4 linked regions of the Homo sapiens genome follow. The protein of the gene in region 3 interacts with the protein of the main gene of each other region in a pairwise test. Each region holds a gene or a part of one and is shown on either strand. Other genes may lie near its edges. The genes, in order: FAM174A, TMPRSS2, TMEM222 and PRSS23.

Region 1 (3,665 bases), on a different chromosome or scaffold from region 3:
TTTGTTGAGTCATCTTCTTTTCTGTAATCCTAAGATTTCTGTTTTCTTTGCATTTGTACCTGACTCTGGACTCTAATTCTCCTTCACCCAAGTAATCCCTCTGGATTCCAAGATGTCTTTCCTTATTAGGTTGAATCTTTGTTGGCTTTTTTCCCCATTCTATTTACATTGGCATTTATTCTATACTCATGTCATTTTATTTATCTAAACCTCTTAGGAAAGGTCTTAACACTTACTGAGAATAGATCTCAGTATATATATTACAGCTACATGATCAGACCATAAACAATTAGTCCCCCAATTCTGCAAGGCAGCACTATTTACAAACACTAGAACCCAAACTAAAAAGAAAATATCTTCAGAATACAAAAAGGAAATTAAATTTAATAAGTATTTCTCTCTCACACACACACACACAAACACACACGCACACAAACACACATGCACACACACACCCAAGTTAATACATATTGCAAGAATGAAGAAGTTAATGGGTCCTAGGCTTAATAACTGGGTGATGAAATAATCTGTACGACAAAACCACATGACACAAGTTTACCTATGTAACGACCCTGCACTTGTACCCCTGAACTTAAAATAAAAGATAAAAACAGAAGAATAAATTAAAAAAAATATTTTGAGATGGTATTCTATTGTTTGTATCTATTTGAGCAAAACAACGTGAATGTGAGCTATGGGGTAGATAGCAAAAAGAACTTCAGTAAACAGAACTGAAGAAACTGTGTTGGAATATAAGCTGTTAAATGAAAGTCTACTTTACTTCTTCAGTTTACTTGGCAAGGACTTGCTTCCTGATTCATGGAATTAAACTACTGGAATACTTACCTTCGAGGATGATTGGCATCAAACAACGTGTTGTCATCATCCTCATCATCCTGTTCTAAAGGTGTCAATTCCATATTTTCTATGTTAGTGTCCAAAACTCCATATCTCCTAGTCTTTCGGTTTCTTCTTCTCATCCTATCAAATAGAACAAATTAATGAATAAAAATTATTTAATATGGCATAGTTTATATTTATTTATAAAATAAATTATTATTCTGTTTCTGACATAGCAAACAATATCAGAATGGTTACATTTCAGATATGCAACAAATTTACCACCTAGGATTAAACTTCATGAAACAAAACCTACTCCTACATGTTTATGTGCCATCGCCTGTTTCTTCTGTCTGACATACTCTCTTCTCTCTGTGTCAACTGATGGTGTTGACAAATAACTTTTAAGCCTTAAATTCAGGTACCGTACTTTAAACCTTAATTTTTAAAGGCTTAGGTCAGGTACTTCTTTACTGAAACCTCCTGCTCCAGCCTTTTCCCCATGTCCTCCCCGCTTTCTTACCACTGTTTAGATGCCCCTCTAAGAAACTGTATGTATATGCATATTCACAGACTAAACTGATAGCCCACAACTCTAGCTGCACACTAGAATTACCTGGGAGTATTTTTTAAAGTCCCATGTTTAGGACATAACTGAATCAAAATGTACAGCAAAAAAGAACTAAATATGAATATTTTGTTGAGGTTCTAAATGTGATTCCAATGTGATATAAACCATTATCTGAGATCAGTGGTTCTTGCAGTGTGGTTCTCTGGATCAGCAGAATCACAGTCACCTAGGAAGTTACGAGAAATGCAAATCTTCATGGCTAGCCCAGACCTAGTGAATAACAAACTTTGAAGATGGGGCCCAGAAACCTGTCTTTTAACAAACATTTCTTATGCTTTTGATGCATATTCAAGTTTGAGAACCACTGGCTTAGAGAAATTCAAAAGATTCAAGGGTGCTTAACATTCATTATTAGCCATATGAATGAAATCTCAAGATTTAGAGTCCTACTTCCAGTTTGTGTCTCAAATAACTTGTTCTTTTCCTTCAAATCATTTACCTTAATTTGCATTCCTATGTGCTGATGTATATGTTTATGTGGGGTTTATTCATCTGTCTCTCCCACTAAGTTCTCTGAGGGCAGCAACCAAGACTGCTTTATTCACCACTACATAACCACTTCCTAGCACAGTGATGTATCAATTAAGATGTTCTTCAATTAATTGTTGAGGGTCTGAGTGACTTCTACTTTGGCGACCAAAACTGTGACCCTGCAAGGAATGCCTAAGTCATCTCCAATGCAACAACTTCAACTCCACAGACAGCAAAATGTGTTTCACAAGAGTGTCCACTGGAGTTTGAAAATAAATAGAAAATATTTCAGCAAGTTATCACAAATAAAATCAGTTTACATAAATTCTGATTTACTCTGTTTGACATATGTGGGATAAGAAATACTTGGGCTATAACATCAACTGTAAAGAGCAACATGAGACTCCTCAAACATGACAGTGAAGCTCCTGGAAAACAAACATACCTTCAACAAATAATTGAGTCTTATTAAGCATCAGGTATGATATTAGCACCTGGGTGTAAAGTGCCTGGTCTCAGTGTTAAAATTTACAAAATGTTACTAAGTGTGAGTACAAACAAAGAAAATTTCCACCAGTCATTACCTATAGAGCTATCTATATACACGTCTAAAGTGATGGAACAGGAAACAGAGAGTTAAGCATAGCATTTAAAGTTACAAATGTAACCAATGAAAGGGTCAGTAAATATTAGTACTAGCAAAAATGAAGCAGTATGAAATACAAAGTACTCTTTCTTTCACAGTGAGAAATTAAGTATGTTTAGGTTGTTACATTAACATGTATATGTGTGTGTATGTGTGCAAACACACCCACACACACCATGTAGACCAGAGGTCTAAACTTTCTCTATAAAAAACCCAGGCAAACAGGGTCTGGAGTGGACCTCCAGCAAACTCCAATAGACCTGCAGCTGAGGGTCCTGACTGTTAGAAAGAAAGCTAACAAACAGAAAGGACATCCACACCAAAACCCCATCTGTACGTCACCATCATCAAAGACCAAAGGTAGATAAAACCACAAAGATGGGGAAAAAACAGAGCAGAAAAACTGGAAACTCTAAAAATCAGAGTGCCTCTCCTCCTCCAAAGGAACGCAGCTCCTCACCAGCAACGGAACAAAGCTGGAAGGAGAATGACTTTGACGAGTTGAGAGAAGAAGGCTTCAGACGATCAAACTACTCCGAGCTAAAGGAGGAAGTTCGAACCCATGGCAAAGAAGTTAAAAACCTTGAAAAAAAATTAGACAAATGGCTAACTAGAATAACCAATGCAAAGAAGTCCTTAAAGGACCTGATGAAGCTGAAAACCATGGCAAGAGAACTACATGACGAATGCACAAGCCTCAGTAGCCAATGCGAACAACTGGAAGAAAGGGTATCAGTGATGGAAGATCAAATGAATGACATGAAGTGACAAGAGAATTTTAGAGAAAAAAGAATAAAAAGAAACGAACAAAGCCTCCAAGAAATATGGGACTATGTGAAAAGACCAACTCTACGTCTGATTGGTGTACCTGAAAGTGATGGGGAGGATGGAACCAAGTTGGAAAATACTCTGCAGGATATTATCCAGGAGAACTTCCCTGGATAGGGAAGTTCTAGCAAGGCAGGCCAACATTCAAATTCAGGAAATACAGAGAACGCCACAAAGATACTCCTCGAGAAGAGCAACTCCAAGACACATAACTGCCAGATTCACCAAAGTTGAAATGAAGGAAAAAAT
Region 2 (3,665 bases), on a different chromosome or scaffold from region 3:
GACCCCAAACAATGTTGGGAATAACAGAAGGGACAAGGGAACAAAGAAAAGGCCAGGAAGGTAATAATTAACCACTTACTGAGTTCAAAGCCATCTTGCTGTTATCAACAGCATCGAGTAATGATAGGTATCTGGAATGTTCAATATGACCTAGAAGAAAGAATTACAGGACTGTAATATTTCCATACCAGTTAGTTTTTAGAAGATAAATCTGGAAAGAACTAGAAGAATCTCTAGATGAAGGTTACCTACAACAAAGACCAGTGTTGCCTGCTGACCTTTGGCCTGCATCTTCACCACTGCTTCCCCACATCCCTCCATATTTAAGGACTTTGGGACCCACTTGTGCCTTAGAGGTTACAGCAGAAGCACTCTCCTCTGGGATCAGAGTGGGTAGGAGGATGGGGTGCAATTGTAAGTGCAGCGGCCAGGACAGCCTGACCAGAAAGAAGAAGGAACACACTCAGTGACTCAAACATCCATCGGGAAGGGCTCTCAGGGGACTGCCTGGGGCTCAAGGCCACCCACAACTCCAGTGCCACTAAGCCCAGGCATCCTGCTGGACTTAACCCAGTTCTCACCAGGAAGCTGTGATATCCCCTATACAGAACATCTACTCAAGGGAGACTGTATGGCATAAAACACTGAAGAAACACGACAAGGTAACTAAACCCATCAATGTCAGCAGAGATTAAGGACAAGATGGGCCCAGGAGGGAAAGACCTGGGCCAGTTCCTGGCAACACAGCTCCCTGGAAGTGTCGATGTGTGAGTTACTGAACCTTGTTGAAATCTCAGGGTCCTCATGGGAAAACGGACAAAGCAATCACCACAGTTGTGTTAAGCTGAGGGTTGTGGGAGAGTGGGGAAAGAGTGCCTCACAGTACTAGGAACTGAGGAAGAGCAGGTGCAATCAGACCGTCTTTCCCCGAGAACGTCCACAGGCACTGCCAGTAGCCACCCACTGCCCAGCGGGTGGTTCAGGGCTCAGCACCAAATACAGCTCACAGTTGACTTTTTAAAGCAGGCCATGTGGGCCCTCTCAATTTTTAATAGATACATACGCTTAAAATAATCCATAAAACATGTCCACAGTCACTCCATTTACTACCCCAAACCCAAAAAAGAAAGAAATTCAGAGCCAACCATTTTGACCACTGCTAAGATTAGCAGTAATGAAAAGAAAGCTGTGGGCCATTTTGCTTGTTGTCCTTTGTGAACAGTTAACAATAATAGCTAGAGATGCCGTCAACACGAAATGCTGTATAGTAAAGCCGCATTCTGACATCACTCTCCATGGACAAAGATTCTTCGCTTGATCAAACTTATATCAAGCTCCTGAACCTTCTAGGCCATCTGTGCATTTCCTTGTAAAATCCAGTTTTAGCAAAAAACCTTGCTCAGTCAGTTTAGCCAGAACCTCCCACCCTCGGTATCTGATCACTCTGGATATCTGATCGGGTTCCTCAGCCTCCACCGTGCCACAGGTGATGTCTGATCACCCAGCCTGTCTTCAGCAAGAATCCTGTTTGGTTGGTTTAGCCAGAATCCCCCTTACCCTTGATGTTTTCTCTTTGTGATTTTTCCACCCACCAACCCCACCCTGATCCTTGGTTATAAATTAACTCCCACTTGCCCATACTGTACTCAAGCGGATCCCAGTCTCTTCTTCCCACTGCAAAATCTGCTGGCTGTGGTCCCTGTACCTGCCTCCGTGGTCCTGAATAAAGTTCGCTTCACCATTTTAACAAGTCTCATTGGACGATTTTTTTTTCTTTAACATGCACCTTCCTGAGCAAATAAAGGGCTTTTTTCCACCCCTTCCCGCTTGGCTTTAAATGACCAAAGAATATTTTAAGAAACGGGGTTCAAGATTATCCGTCCACAAGACCATGTTCCCAATGAGGGAACAAGAACCTGGAGGAGGCTCTGGGCTTCGGACCTGGCCAGACCAGTGTCCACTGTCTGTGACATGGCCACAGAAGAATATTTCCCAGTTGCTGGCACAAAGCAGGTGCTCAAACAGCAGCAGGCAGCACTGGGCAGCGGTTCAGCCCCTGACCTCTGAGACTAGACTCTAGATCCAAACTCAGGCTCAGCCACTCACTCTCCATGACCTGGAGGAAGCTATTGAAGGTTCTGTGCCTCAGTTTCCCCATCTGCAAATGCAGATAATAGTAACACCTACCTCCAGGGCATTCCATGAGTTAATACTAATGAAGTGCTTCATGCTTAGCATAAAATGAGTGCTATATAACTTTCCATTAAATAAGAGGAATTATAAAGCTGATAAACATTTAACAACCTGCTGAAGGAAAAGAGGGCTGTCTTGATTCGCAGGTTTGCCTTCGGTAAGTATTCCCAGGCTACCAACATGAAGCCCACCACGGAGCCAAGTAGAGTGGGGCCGGCTTCAGTACACCATCGCTTTCCTGTGTCCTAAGCAGAACTGGTTGCTGAATCATTAAACTATAAAACCCCAACAGCCTGCCATGAATGAAAATGAGTATATGGCTTTTTAGTCTCGAGAAACCTCACCCAACAGGTTACAACAAACATGCACCAATCATTTATTTACTCTTCAATTACAGATAAAAATACAAGAACCAGGTCATGTTGTAGCTTTGGGACTTTTTCTAGGATTAAAACTAAAGTTCACACCTTCCTGGGTATAAGGAAAGGAAAGTGACTAATGTACAGGTGGGAAGGATCACCATTTAAAATGTATCAAAAACGTTTAAGCCTTTTAGCCACATCTTAACAGACCTTGCCTATGTCTGCTTTGTGAAGAGAGAGGATCCTCAGGCTTGACAACACAATAAATCCCGCATTCTTGTCTCATAAGCAGGACAGAACTCAGTACCATCCTAAGATTGCTTTCAAAGAGTCCTGCCTAACCAAACACATCCTCATGCCTCTGGTTTCTCGGCTGTCCTATCTCCCCAGTTACAGGTTTGGTTGAAGTTTCAGGAAGTGAAAATTCGATCCCATTGGCAGCTCTCCCAGCTCAGAAGCCCTCTGAAAGGAGTGAAGAATCAATACTCAAAACCCACACTTGCTATTCATTCACGATCCCTAACAAGGAAGCCAGGGAAGGAAGGAACACCGGGAGCCACCACCATTAATTGTCAAATAAAAGCCATGGGACCCAGAGGCAGTCACAGGATAATCCTATCTCTTCCAGCAATCAGAACATGATAAACAAAAATATTCCGTGTGCCCAAGTCAGTTACCATGGACTTTGGAATGGAAGACCAGAGTGATGCTGCCAGTAACATTCTCCAGCTGGGCCGGGCACGGCGGCTCCTGCCTATAATTCCAGCACTTTGGGAGGCCAAGGCGGGCAGATCACCTGAGGTCAGGAGTTCAAGACCAGCCTGGCCAACATAGTGAAACCCCATCTCTACTAAAAATACAAAAATTAGCTGGGTATGATGGTGGGTGCCTGTAATCCCAGCTACTTGGGAGGCTGAGGCAGGAGAATCACTTGAACCTGGGAGGCAGAGGTTGCAGTCAGCCAAGATTAGGCCACTGCACTCCAGCCTGGGTGACAGAGAGAGACTCTGTCTCAAAAAAAAAAAAAAAAAAAAAAAAAAAAGAAACAACAACAACATTCTCCAATTGAAAATAAAACAAGGGGGGGAATGTCCCGCTCTGACATTAGAT
Region 3 (3,665 bases):
CTCTCCAGTCTTCATTTGAAAGATCTTTTGAATCCATGTGTTTCTCACCACCCTGCCCCTGATCCTCTAGTCAGGACCTCCATCATCTCTTGCCAGTGGTACAGCAGTAGCCCCTGAGCTGGCCTCTCCCCCTTTCGTTCTTCCAGGCACATGTACCACTTTCTTGCTCTGCAGTGTTGTTTTCTGCCTGTTGATGTTGTGTCCTTTCACAGGTCAAGGTTAAAAGTCACCTCCTCTGTGAAGTCTTTACTGGCTCCACCCCAGCCCCCTGTAACTGCTTTTTTAAACTGCGTCTCTGGAGGCTTGGCCTGCACCCCTAGCCAGGTGCTTTATGCTCGTGCCCAGGCAGCATTGAGGCCAGGACTCGGCCACTGGCCCTGTGAGTTCTCCTTAAACTGGATCAGTCTCTCCAGCACCCAGGTCCTGTAGGGCCATGGTTCTCAGAACACAGACAGGTCTGGGGTTCCTATGTGTGACATATTGGGGTGCATCTGAGATTTATTGTTGTTTTTTAATGCCCATGGTTTATAAAAAAGGAACTTTTATTTCCTGGCATACACCATGCTTCTGTTCCAATTTCTACCCTTGCACATTCTGTTTCTTTGTTATTTCCTCAGGGAAGCCTTTCCTGAACTCCCCCACCCATACTGGTGTCATGACCGCCCACCTTTTTTTTTTTTTTTAACTTTCTTATTGAGGTATAACTTATGTACCAAACGGTGTGCGAATCTCAAGTATACAGCAGGAAGAATTTTTGCATATCACACACTCATGTAACCGCCACCCAGACGGGGGCTAGAAAGCAATGCTAAGACCCAGAGGACCCCCTTGTGCCCTCCCAGTCAGTTCTACCACAGATTCCACCCCGCTGTGGACCTCTAGCCATAGATCAGTCTTGCCTTTTCTTGGACTTCACGTAAACAGAGTGCTATGTTACGTACTCTGTGTAAGATTTCCTTCATTCACCCTTATGTCTGTGAAAGCCTGTGTTGTGTGTAGCAGAAGTGACACTGTTTTTCATTGTTATGGACTATTTCAATGTATAACTATACCACACTTATTCATCGTACTGTTGTTGAACATTTGGATTCTTTCTAGTTGTTTTTATCAATTTTATTGAATTATAGTTTACATATAATAAAATGTACACATTTTAAGAGTACAGTTCAATGAGTTTTGGCAAATGTTATTTCCCAGGGGTGAGGGCAAAGAAGGTTCCAAAAGTGAAACTGCTGAGGCATTTAGTATAGTGCCAAACTGTTTTCCAGAATGGTAGAAACAGGCCGGGTACGGTGGCTCACGCCTGTAATTCCAGCACTTTGGGAGGCCGAGGCAGGCAGATGACTTGAGGTCAGGAGTTCGAGACCAGCCTGGCCAACGTGATGAAACCTCATGTCTACTAAAAATACAAAAATTAGCCAGGCATGGTGGTGCACTCCTGTAGTCCCAGCTACTCGGGAGGCTGAGGCAGGAGAATTGCTTAAACCCAGGAGGCGGAGGTTGCAGTGAGCTGAGATTGTGCCACCGCACTTCAGCCAGGGCAAGAGAGCGAGACTCCATCTCAAAAACAAAATGGTAGGCCGGGTGCAGTGGCTTATGCCTGTAATCCCAGCACTTTGGGAGGCCAAGGCACGTGGATCACGAGGTCAAGAGATCGAGACCATCCTGGCCAACATGGTGAAACCCCATCTCTACTAAAAATACAAAAATTACCCAGGCGTGGTGGTGCACACCTGTAGTCCCAGCTACTCAGGAGGCTGAGGCAGGAGAATTGCTTGAACTCGGGAGGCGGAGGTTGCAGTGAGCCAATATTGTGCCACTGCACTCCAGCCTGGGCGACAGAGCGAGACTCCATTTGAAAAAAAAAAAAAGGTAGAAACAGTTTATCCCTCCCACCAGCAGTGAATGAGAGCTCTGGTTGTCCCTTGCCCTCACCTGCATTGGTGTTGCTGTCGTTTGAGTTACAGCCATCCTGGCGGGATGCTGAGGTATCCCATTGTGCTGTCGGTTTGCAGTTACCCTTGTCTGTGCTTCCCCAGCCTTCTGGACCACCCTAATGGCCACCTGTCAATGAAACGTAATATTCACATGCTTCTGTACTGTATGAAGGGTCCCCAGCGTCCGTCTAACTGGCTGAAAGATCCCCTAAGCTCTGTCCCTTCCCCGTCCTTTTCCTCACAGGTGGTTTTTCCCCATCATCGGCCACATGGGCATCTGCACATCCACAGGAGTCATTCGGGACTTCGCGGGCCCCTACTTTGTCTCAGTGAGTCCCCATTCTGCCCACCCGGGGGGTTCCAAGGTTTAAGTGGAAGGCTGTCCTGTCTTGCCTGCAGGCAGGCTTCGTCTCCCCAGACCCAGGAGAACGTAGATAACCCGCAGTCCTGGCCCTGGCCCTCTGCCCCTCACCAGTGTTTGACCCCTTTCCCCCTTCTCTTGCCTCCAGGACAGGCCGGGAGGGCAGTGTGGCCAGAAGGATTCTTAAGTAACTGACCCAGCCCTTTGCCCCCACCCCTGGGGTACCGAGACATGGGTAGGGATTAGAGGCAAGAGTGGAGAGTCAGACCATCCAGGAACCACATCTCTGGACCTTCAGAAGGTGGGAGTCAAGGTGGGGGGACACGGGAGGCTGATTCGGTTCCCTGGGTGTGGCCATGGAGAAGAGGGGGTGGGGCTTTAGAATGAAGCAGCTGTGTTCTCAGGTCTGTTCCCTGGGGCTGTGACCAAGACTGGTCCAGTGGGCTAGCAGCAGAGGAGCATGCATCATCCTGTCTCCAGGTGTCAGAGGCTGGACTGAAGGGGTGTGGTGGCACCAACCTGTTTATATTAATAGTTGTCATGATCATCTTAACACGACAAAGGTCTGTCACTTTGTACTTAAAAATACTTTCACATCCATTACTTTATCATATATTTTTATGGTGATTAATCATTGACCAGGTCTGTCAGCAGGGTCTCCCTGATCTGAACCCAGAGTCTGTCTCTGTGTAAGTCCTGTACCCCAGGAATAATGTGATGAGTCTAGGACTTCACTGCAGTGTCTCCCTCACAGGAAGTCCCTCTGGGCCCAGCGCCCCCGCCCTGCTATGAATGCAGTCAGACTGCTGGGCGAGGAGATGGTCTCCATGTGGGCCACCACTGTTGAGTCAGGAGGCCAGACCATGATGGAAACCTCCTGCTGGTCCTCAGAGATCAGAGAAGACTGACCAGAGAACTTGGAGAAAATGAGGCCCAGAGAGGGCAAGAGAATTCCTGGGTGCCACACCAAGGGACAGTGGCAGCTGGAGCCCCAGATCTTTGGTCTCTGATGCAGTGCTCTGTGCACTTGTGCCACACTGCCTTCTTCCTGCAGAACAGCTGCTAGCTCTTTAGATGCCATGCCAGCCCCAGGGCAGGGCCCAGGCCCCACTTCTGGCCCCCCCACCCCTGACATACCCTCTTCTAAGTCACTGCACTTCTGCCACCTACCCAGGTTTGTCATCTGGCCCAAATGTAAGTTCCTCACTGACCTCTGCTTTTGTCCCTCAACAGGAGGACAACATGGCCTTTGGAAAGCCTGCCAAGTAAGTGATGAACACCCATGTGACTGGCTCTAGAGGCAGGTCGCTCCTGCCGGGGCGGGCCAGGCCTTCTGGGGCACAGGAGGGGCCAGCACCCTGAGAATA
Region 4 (3,665 bases), on a different chromosome or scaffold from region 3:
CCAGACATAGAAATGGAGACCTCCCTTCTTCCTCAGGCTAGATTCCTGTTAGATTCCAAAGAAAATTGTGCTGGAACTCAGAATTTTCCTGGCGGCTCTGCATCTCCTTGCTATGCATAGTATTTCTCATATGATTTGAAGAAAGCACTGTGGTTGTACGTTTCTTGAGTGCCTTATCAGAATTATCCTTCCAAAAAGCTCAAGAAAGACAAGCAGAAAATCCCCCAGAGAATGTCTAAGTGACAGTGCTCCATCTGAATATCCTTACAAATTGCTACAATGCAGGTTTACCTGGGGTGCAAGCACAGCAAACACGTGCTTGTAGTCCATTTGATTTTTTCTCCGATACATTTAGAAAGAAGTGCTTAGGCCGAGAGCCATAAAATAAAAACATACAATAAGTCCAAGTCTTTTCTGTATATGCTGTGATTTGATAATCATATTGATAAAACATGTGTAAAGGCCTTTATTGGAAGGCATGATTCTGATCCATTTTGCATTCTTCCAATTTTCATTTTTGCTATTATACCTAATTGTTTATCTATAACCTAGAGCATTCCAGCAAAAGCGGCCCTTTTAAAGCTAGAGGGAAAAAGGCCACACTGGTTTTCTTAAAGTAACTTCCAAGTATTTTCACTATAAATGAGAGAGAAAAGTTTCCAAATTGAAGAAGTACATAGCTCCCAGAAAGCACACTGAAAACTATGCAGAATAATTTTTGATCAGGCTGGAGGACTGTGCCAGGCTCCAAACAAGTGGTTATTCTGTTGTGACATCTGCCAGGCAATGCTTCCATTGTTCTCTGGAATTTAATTCATTTTAAATTACTCCATCCAAATGATAAAACATGAGATGTGCTATAATCCAGGGGTAAAATGCTATGATTGTTTTTAGTGTGGCCACAACTGTTTGCTGGGAGGAAATACAGCCTGTTCTAATTAAGCCCTGATTATTGTCTTCTGAAAAATAGCTAGTTCCAGAAATGTGAGTGAAATCCTGTTAAATGGAAGGGTTGGGATAAACACTCTTGGCCACTCTGGTATGACTTTAAAGTTGGGAGGGCCATATGCAAAGACTTCCTACAAAGTAGAGCAACAACCTTTGGAAAAGAAACTATTTTTGGAACTAAAAGCAGCTTGGGATACTGGTTTACTATAAGGTATAGTTTAATATGTGTATCAGTATAGTCAACACATCATTTTACTGTTCAAAGACTACCATGCAAATGCCTCCAAATCCAAAATATTCTGCCTAACAAATGCTGTCAAAGTTCCTAAATGGGAACACTGCCTTATGGAAGCATTAAAGATCAGGCACTGAATTAAAAAAACAAAAAAACCCACCACCAAGATGAATCTCAGAAGAAAACACACATGCACACATATAAGAATTCATATCTCTTGTATGCCAAATATTTAATATAAATCTTTGAAACAAGTTCAGATGAAATAAAAATCAAAGTTTGCAAAAACGTGAAGATTAACTTAATTGTCAAATATTCCTCATTGCCCCAAATCAGTATTTTTTTTATTTCTATGCAAAAGTATGCCTTCAAACTGCTTAAATGATATATGATATGATACACAAACCAGTTTTCAAATAGTAAAGCCAGTCATCTTGCAATTGTAAGAAATAGGTAAAAGATTATAAGACACCTTACACACACACACACACACACACACACGTGTGCACGCCAATGACAAAAAACAATTTGGCCTCTCCTAAAATAAGAACATGAAGACCCTTAATTGCTGCCAGGAGGGAACACTGTGTCACCCCTCCCTACAATCCAGGTAGTTTCCTTTAATCCAATAGCAAATCTGGGCATATTTGAGAGGAGTGATTCTGACAGCCACGTTGAAATCCTGTGGGGAACCATTCATGTCCACCCACTGGTGCCCTGAAAAAATGCCAATAATTTTTCGCTCCCACTTCTGCTGCTGTCTCTTCCACATCCTCACATAGACCCCAGACCCGCTGGCCCCTGGCTGGGCATCGCATTGCTGGTAGAGCAAGTCATAGGTCTCGTCTTTGACGTCACAGAAGCGATACACCAAATTGCCTGGTCGGTCATTGTCATAACCAGAGAAGTGAATTCTGCCCCCTGGCAGCTGCTTAGCAGGAGGGCTCACCCCAATCTTCATAAATTTTCTCTTGTGGGGCTTTTTGAGTTCCAGGAGGGCATAATCATAATCCATGCCGATGTCATTGGCATTGCCCTTGATCCAACCCTTGGGCACATGGGTGCGTTTCACCCGGATCCACTGAAATTTCATCTGCTCGGGCATGGCTGAAGTGGAGTCGTTGGCCCCTCGACCACCATCTTTAAACTTGGGCTTTAGGAAGCCCACTCGAAGCTTCTGGGTTCCTTTCACATAGGTTTTTCCATCGTGTATGCAGTGGGCAGCTGTGAGGACATGCTTCTCTGCCACCAGGGTGCCGGTGCAGCCCGTGGATAACTTCACTGATGTTGAGAAAGGGTAGTTGAGCAGGAAGTCCTTCCCAAAAATGCTGAACCTGCTGTCATAGCCATAAATCTGCCGCTTCCTTCGAGACTTTCCTGAAGACCCTGAGTCTCGGTGTTGGGCCCCATCTCCACTACTGCTGAGGATGTAGATGCCCACCTGCGTCTCTGTGCGGCTGCCATTGGCATAGAGCGTTTCATAAGACAGATATTGCTTGGCCTCTTCGTAAGTGGGCAGTGGAGTTCCCTTATGACACTGGGGTCCACATGAAGAAGATACTTCTAATTTGGCTTCGGCTCCAAAGTCTGGCTTGGCTAAATTGAGGGTAGACTGGGGCAAGACGACAGGGAGGCGGTATGCAGGCCAAGTGGGTTTCCAGGGGGCACTGTAAGGGCTCACTTGCCCAACAGCACAGAGCAGAAAGAAGAGAAGGAAGAGGAGCCCTGGAATCCCTGCCATGCCGAGCACTGTTCTGTAGAAACAAAGACAAGCAGGTCAGGAGGGCAAGGGCTGAACGTTCATTTACTGCAGACAGCAAAGCTCAGCAGCAGGCCTGTCATTGTTTCTGAGTCTTTGAACACTCCTCAGGAATCAGGGTGTGGAGAGGAATCCTTAGATAACGGTCTCACTTTCAACGCAAAGGCTCAACCTTAGGAAAGTTCCTGTGGCTGGGTGCCTGAAGTGAAATTGGGTGTTCCTTCCTTTCTATGTTTAAGATGTCCCTAATGATGGTAGACTGCAGAGTAGCAGGCATAAAGTCATTAGTCCCCTGGCTAACTGACTGACCAGCCCCAATTTCCACGTAATTTTGAGCCCTCTTTGTGCTTGATTCTAAACCTCCTCCTCTTCTACCTTCATGATGTCCCCGCCTTTCCCTCCTCCTTCTCTCATTCTCATTGTAACATGTACTTGGAAAATTTTCAGAGCAACTTGGTCACTCAGAGGGTCAATTTAAATTACATGGCTTACTGAGTGACTGAGACATCAAAGAAGGACAGCTCCACAGTGTCACAATTACCACCACTCCTGTGGTTTTTAAATGATGGTGCACTCGAGAAAGGGTATGAGATTTTTTGTTTTGTTTTGTTTTTTGCTTTGAATTTACAACAACCTTTACTATTATATATATTGAGTTCCAGAGTGGCTAGGCTTCTAATAAAATATTCCTTCTTCCTTTGGATTATGTTGTACACTACCAGG

Evidence for each region.
Region 1: the proteins of TMEM222 (region 3) and FAM174A interact in binary tests that used the Homo sapiens proteins (3 or more experiments, as listed by UniProt).
Region 2: the proteins of TMEM222 (region 3) and TMPRSS2 interact in binary tests that used the Homo sapiens proteins (3 or more experiments, as listed by UniProt).
Region 4: the proteins of TMEM222 (region 3) and PRSS23 interact in a two-hybrid assay, tested with the Homo sapiens proteins (one large-scale study listed by BioGRID and IntAct).

Annotation. Positions count from the first base shown.
Region 1 is NC_000005.10:100,559,370-100,563,034, reverse strand, and holds part of FAM174A (membrane protein FAM174A precursor), read right to left. Parts: intron 982-3,665; coding exon 847-981; intron 1-846.
Region 2 is NC_000021.9:41,498,040-41,501,704, forward strand, and holds part of TMPRSS2 (transmembrane protease serine 2), read right to left. Parts: intron 151-3,665; coding exon of another isoform or gene 95-150; coding exon 80-94; intron 1-79. UniProt on the Homo sapiens protein: Plasma membrane-anchored serine protease that cleaves at arginine residues. Participates in proteolytic cascades of relevance for the normal physiologic function of the prostate.
Region 3 is NC_000001.11:27,328,539-27,332,203, forward strand, and holds part of TMEM222 (transmembrane protein 222), read left to right. Parts: intron 1-2,176; exon of another isoform or gene 2,177-2,181; coding exon 2,182-2,266; intron 2,267-2,446; exon of another isoform or gene 2,447-2,599; intron 2,600-2,702; exon of another isoform or gene 2,703-3,531; coding exon 3,532-3,563; intron 3,564-3,665.
Region 4 is NC_000011.10:86,806,903-86,810,567, reverse strand, and holds part of PRSS23 (serine protease 23 precursor), read right to left. Parts: intron 2,938-3,665; 5' UTR 2,925-2,937; coding exon 1,773-2,924; 3' UTR 1-1,772.